Linked DNA regions of Homo sapiens: region 1 is linked to region 2. The links come from fine-mapping of genetic effects on gene expression. A gene starts in region 2. The other region holds a variant in brackets. All regions are shown on one strand. Distances are from middle to middle.

Evidence for each region. PIP is the estimated chance that this variant, and not a neighbour inherited with it, causes the effect.
Region 1: its variant is the best candidate, but not a certain one, in a credible set for the expression of ZNF112 in esophagus muscle (GTEx, PIP 0.69).

The regions. Positions count from the first base shown.
Region 1 is chr19:44,310,671-44,313,592 of GRCh38, reverse strand. No RefSeq gene overlaps it. Among named protein-coding and RNA genes, the nearest start is that of ZNF235, 7.1 kb to the right of the region's middle. The variant A/G (reference allele first, on the strand shown) is at 1,440.
Region 2 is chr19:44,355,397-44,358,318 of GRCh38, reverse strand. ZNF112 (zinc finger protein 112) reads left to right here and starts at 1,639. Exons shown (of 4, transcript NM_013380.4): 1 at 1,639-1,693. RefSeq lists an enhancer at 1,330-1,830.

The DNA of each region.
Region 1 (2,922 bases), 45 kb after region 2:
TTAGAAATCAGAGAGAGGCAACCCCAACAATACATATTGCAAAAAATAAAAAATATATATAATAGAAAAAATATCATAATGAACAGGCAAGTCACTTAAATAAAAGTTCAAATTGATAGTGAAAATATGTAAAGGTACCCAACCATGTTAGTAACTAGGGAAGTCAAAACTACAGCCAGATCTATTTTTATCCCTTAAGGTTGTCAAAGTTTTTTCTTTTTTTTCTTTCTTTTTTTTTTTTTTTTGAGACAATCTCACTCTCTTGCCCAGGCTGGAGTGCAGTGGCATGGTCTCGGCTCATTGCAATCTCCACCTCCCAGGTACAAGTGATTCTCATGTCTCAGCTTCCCAAGTAGCTGGGATTACCGTCATGCACCACCACACCTGGCTAACTTTTTTATTTTTAGTACAGATGGGGTTTCACCGTGTTGGCCAGGCTGGTCTCGAACTTCTGACCTCAGGTGATCTGCCCACCTCGGCCTCCCAAAGTGCTGGGATTACAGGTGTGAACCACTGCACCCTGCCAGGTTGTCTCAATTTTTTCAAGAAAATGTGGTGAATTTGCTACTCTCATAAACTGCTTGTGGGAGTGGAAACTAGTGCAATTGCTTTGAGGAATTAATTAGCAGTAGCTATCAAATGTTTAAATATGCTTACCACATGACCTAGCAATTGCAATTTTTCTGCCTCTCCCATGGAGAATGGTCACACCTCATAGGAGGGCATGAATGAGACGTTTATTGCAGCTTTGTTGTAATAGTGGAAAAATTGAAAACAATTTCTGTGTCTTTCATATAAACTGTATAAGCACATTTGCAAAATATTATATAGCATGTAAGATGAATGATGTTCTTTAAGTCTTACAAGGACACACATTCTACACATTTAAATACATATAAAAGAGTCCAGAATAAATAAATAAAATACAGAATAAAGAGTCCAGAATAAATAAAAATACAATAAAACAAACAAACAAAAAAGAGTCCATAAGAATAGATACTAAACTGATAATGGTCTCTACCTTAAAGACAGGGAATGGAGAAGAGTACTGGGCAGCTGTGGTGGTCGAAGGAGATTTTAGCTGTTATCTTTAGTATTATTTAAAAGAAAATAGTAGATTATGATTTTATAATTTAAAAATATTAATACTAATAATATCATTACTACTAATAGGGGAAATTGAGTTAACAAATACCCAGTGATATCATAGAAGTGGAAAATGCAATTTCTCAATCCAGAATACGTGGAAGAAGTATAGCTTAGCTAAGCGTGGTACCAAGAGAAATATGCACTGACTGGGTGATGCACCAAAGATTAGCAGCCTTTAGAGAAAGGAGCCTGCTGCCCAAAGAGAAGCATTGTTGCGGGTTGCATTCCCTGGGAAGTAGACTCTGAAATGGACAGTAGCACTCAGGTGGTGCAAATGTATTAGAAATATC[A/G]AGAAAAGTATAATTTGAAGTGGAGCCTGAAGATGTGACAAAATGGCTACAATTTCATGATAAAACTTGAAAGGATAAGGAGTTGTTTCTTAAGGATGAACAAAGAAAGTGGTTTCATGAAATGGAATCTACTTTTAGTGAAGATGCTGTGACCACTGTTAAAATGACAACAAAGGATTTCGAATATGATGTAAACCTAGGTGATAAAGCAGTGGCAGGGTTTGAGAAGACTGACTCCAATTTTGAGAGATGTTCTACTTTGGGTAAAATGCTATCAAACACCGTCACATGCTACAGAGAAATCTTTCATGAAAGGAAGAGTCCATCACGGGGGCAAACTTCATTGTTGTCTTATTTTAAGAAATTTCCACAGCCACCCCAGCCTTCAGCAACTACCACCCTGATCAGTCAGCAGCCATAAACATCAAGGGAAGACCTTCCTCCAGATAAAAGATTACACAACTCACAGAAGGCTCAAATGATTGTTAGCATTTTTTATCAACAAAGTATTTTTAAATTAAGGTATCTACATTGCTTTTTTTTTTTTTTTTTTTTTTTTTTGAGACAGAGTCTCACTCTGTCACCCAGGCTGGCACGATCTTGGCTCCCTGCAACCTCCGCCTCCCGGGTTCACGCCATTCTCCTGCCTCAGCCTCCCGAGTAGCTGGGACTATAGGCGCCTGCCACCACGCCCGGCTAATTTTTTTGTATTTTTAGTAGAGACGGGGTTTCACCGTGTTAGCCAGGATGGTCTCTATCTCCTGACCTCGTGATCCACCCGTCTTGGCCTCCCAAAGTGCTGGGATTACAGGCATGAGCCACTAGACATAATGCTATTACACAGGTAAATGGTATGTTTACAGTATAGTATAAACATAACTTTTATGTGCAATAAGAAACCAAAAAATTCATGTGACTCACTTTATTGAGATACTCATTTTATTGCAGTGGTCTGGACCCAAACCTGCAATATCTCCCAGGTATGCACATATTAAGAAAACTTTGATCAAGTAAGGTGGTCATGCCTGTAATCCTCTGCACTTTGGAAGGCTGAGGTGGGAGGATTAAGATTGCTTGAGGCTGAGAGTTAGAGACCAGCCTAGGCCACATAGGAAGACCTCATTTCTACCAAAAAAAAAAGTTAAAAAATGATCCAGGCATGGTGGTACATGCCTGTAGTCCTAGCTACTCAAGAGGCTGAAGCAGGAGGATTACTTGAGCCCAGGAGTTTAAAATTACAGTGAGCTATGATGATTTCACCAGTGCGCTCCAAGGTAGGCAACAGAATGAGACCCTGTCTCTAAACAAAATACTTTCTGCCCTGAGGTTCGTAAAGGTATTAGCCCATATTATTAAGTGGTGTAATTACTTCTGAAACTAATTACTCAGTGTTAGGTCAAACTTCACAGTTCAAGTGCACAGTGCTCAGAAGACTTTTTTCATTCCAAACTGCAAGTTCAAGGGTTTCCATGCCACCCTCACT
Region 2 (2,922 bases):
TTTTTAAAATTTCCTTTCATTTTATAAAAAAAAATCCCCTATTATCAGATTGATCCTCTTTAATATGTAAACCGTATGTATTTTCAGAAACATTTCCTTGGAAAGGAGTTGTTAAATAAAGAATCAAATAGTCTCATCTCTTAATAGTGTCTTTTTTTTTTTCTTTTGAGACGGAGTCTCGCTCTGTTGCCCAGGCTGGAGTGCAGTGGTGCGATCTCGGCTCACTGCAAGCTCCGCCTCCCGGGTTCACGCCATTCTCCTGCCTCAGCCTCCCGAGTAGCTGGGACTACAGGTGCCCGCCACCACGCCCGGCTAATTTTTTGTATTTTTTGTAGAGACGGGGTTTCACCATGTTAGCCAGGATGGTCTCGATCTCCTGACCCCGTGAGCATTTTCACAGATTGGTCGTTATGTCTTTTTATTTTCCTCTTCCTTTTCTGGATTGAGTCAACCCATTCACCGTCCTCCCTGAATCATCCTGTCCTCCATAAGACAACTTACAATATTTGCTATATCAAGAGCAGGGTGAAAATAGGTGATAGATTTTTCTCAAAGAAGAAAAAAATTTCGAGGTTTTACAAGAGACTTATCCCTTCCCATAATAATAACATTTTGTCTGTATCAGTACAGCCCTTCTATTTGCCTTATGACTTGCATTTCATCATCAGTAGTTAAAGCAGAGGAAACGTGGGAACCATTTACTGTTTCTGCTTATGGCCTCATCAACGGTTGCATCTGTTTTTTTGTGGATTCTTGGCATCCACGTTCTTGTGGATCTTGCAACAAACACATTATGGTAGGTAGCAGCAGCACTATCAGTTTCAGACGCGTCCACACCAAAATGGAATAAAAAGGTAATCGAGTCAAAGAAAGGTTGAGATCCTGTATTCCTTAAATTCGGTGTCCAGTACAAATCAGCCCAATTTCCTTTAAGTACCTGCATTTTTAGCGCACACATCGCTTCCATTCTGTAATTCTTTTCTTTTTTCTTCCTGTATTGCAAGCTTCTCTGTTCTCTCCTTTATGGGATATTTTCTTGGTAAGTAGGTAGGTAGGTAGGTAAAGTCCGCTTTGGTTGAGTTTATTTGGGTTTGTGTCGCGTTTGAAGAAAAATAAATTCAAACTCTAGGGGGAAGGCAGTAGAACTGGACTAGCAGTATAAAATTGGATGGCTAACCAAAAGAGAATAGTGACTATACAAATACTGACTATCCAAACGAGAAAGAGACGACTTAAGGGAAAGTGCTACCCTGCAAGAAATTCCGGGAATTGTCCAGAAGATCCACAGGGTCAGAGACACACGCGCCAGGAAAGGCGCCTTTCATGCACGGTCCGCTGGGTAAAACAGAGAAATATATATACGAGCTCTCTGTCTTTGGAAGCATTTCGGTTCCAGGAAGGGGGAGTTAAGGAATTCCTTTGGGACCGGCACATGTGAAATATCATCCAGGCTCTCAGCTTGGCACCCGGTACTTGCGTCCTAGGCAGGCAGATAAGTGGAGAGTTTTTCTAGGAATTCTGGGAAATGTAGTTTGGGAGCCCCGTGTAGTCGGGTAACTTCCGCTCTAGGAGGCTGAGGCCGTCTCCCTGATCCCGTCGGGAATTCTGGGAAGCGTAGTCCAGGAGGTCTCGGTAGGCAGAGCCACTTCCGCCCCAGGTACGCTAGGCCGCGGCCTTCGTTCCTCCCAGAAAGGTGAGCGCTCCCCGCCCTGCTTCCTGCTCCTTCCGTCCATACTGATGTTCGTTTTGTTGGGGTCCAGTAGCAACCGGGCAGTAGCTCTAGGGGAGGATAATCCACTTGCGGCGAAGGGCGGGATTTGTGTTATCTTTGAATGAGCCTTCTCCAGTGTGGGGCAGCTGGCGCATCCCCACTTAGCGCCGGGGGTCCAAGATCCTACATCGCAGGGACTGGGGATCTCCTGGGTTCTGTACTTCCCCAGCCCTTTCCCCTGACCATCAACCAGCTCTGCCACTTCCTAGCAGTATAATAACAGGCGAGTATCTTAATCTCTCTGCCTATGTTTCTTTTTCTTTAAAATGGTACTAGTATCTATCTAATGGAGTTCTTTTGAGAGTTAAATAAAAAGACTTGGAACAGAGCCTGACAGGTGGTAGAAGATGGGTCTCTTGTTATTAGCACTTTTTAATTTTCTGAGAAGGACTCAGTTCCCTGAAAGCTTCTGTGAACCCAGGATGGGGTCAGAGCTCCAGCTGCAGAGTATCCCTGGCCCTTTTCTGATCACTGAGAGATTTTTCTTTAGGACAGGATCACTCCTGGCTGTCTGGGTAGTCCATTGTAATTCATGCAGGAGTTCTGATTTCCCCCATCCTCCTTTCCTTCTTTAGCCTTGACTTCTTGAAAAAGGCTGCAGGGAGAAGGAGGGAATGACCCTTTGGCACTTGGCAGCGGAGTCTCACCTGAGTAGTACTTATCATCCTTTCTTTTCAGGGAAGACGATATTTCCATCATTCACTGGCAAATTCTGCTCGAAGATGCGCTGATATTTGTTCAATAAATGCAGAAACGGATGAGGGAGTACTTGGGCATGAGTAATAAAGATAGTATTTAAACATTTAGTGCTGATCATTCTAAGAGTTTGATATGAATTAACATCTTTAATCCTCACAAGAGCCCTTTGAGCCTGGGTTGGGTACCACCATTCCCATTTTAAAGATAAGCAAACAGACATAGAGCATAGGTGGTTTATCTTTAGGTCACCCAGGTGGTAAGAGCCTGAGCTGGGATTTGAATTCAAATAGTTTCCATCCATTGCCTTAGTTCTTGATGTGTTTAGTATCAGCTTCAGAACACATATTTGGATTTTACTAGAGGACCGTGAAAGCAAGGTTAATAAGCTTTGAATTTTTGATTTTTTAAAATTATCTGTAATTTAATTTTATTTGAAATATTTATAGTTCATA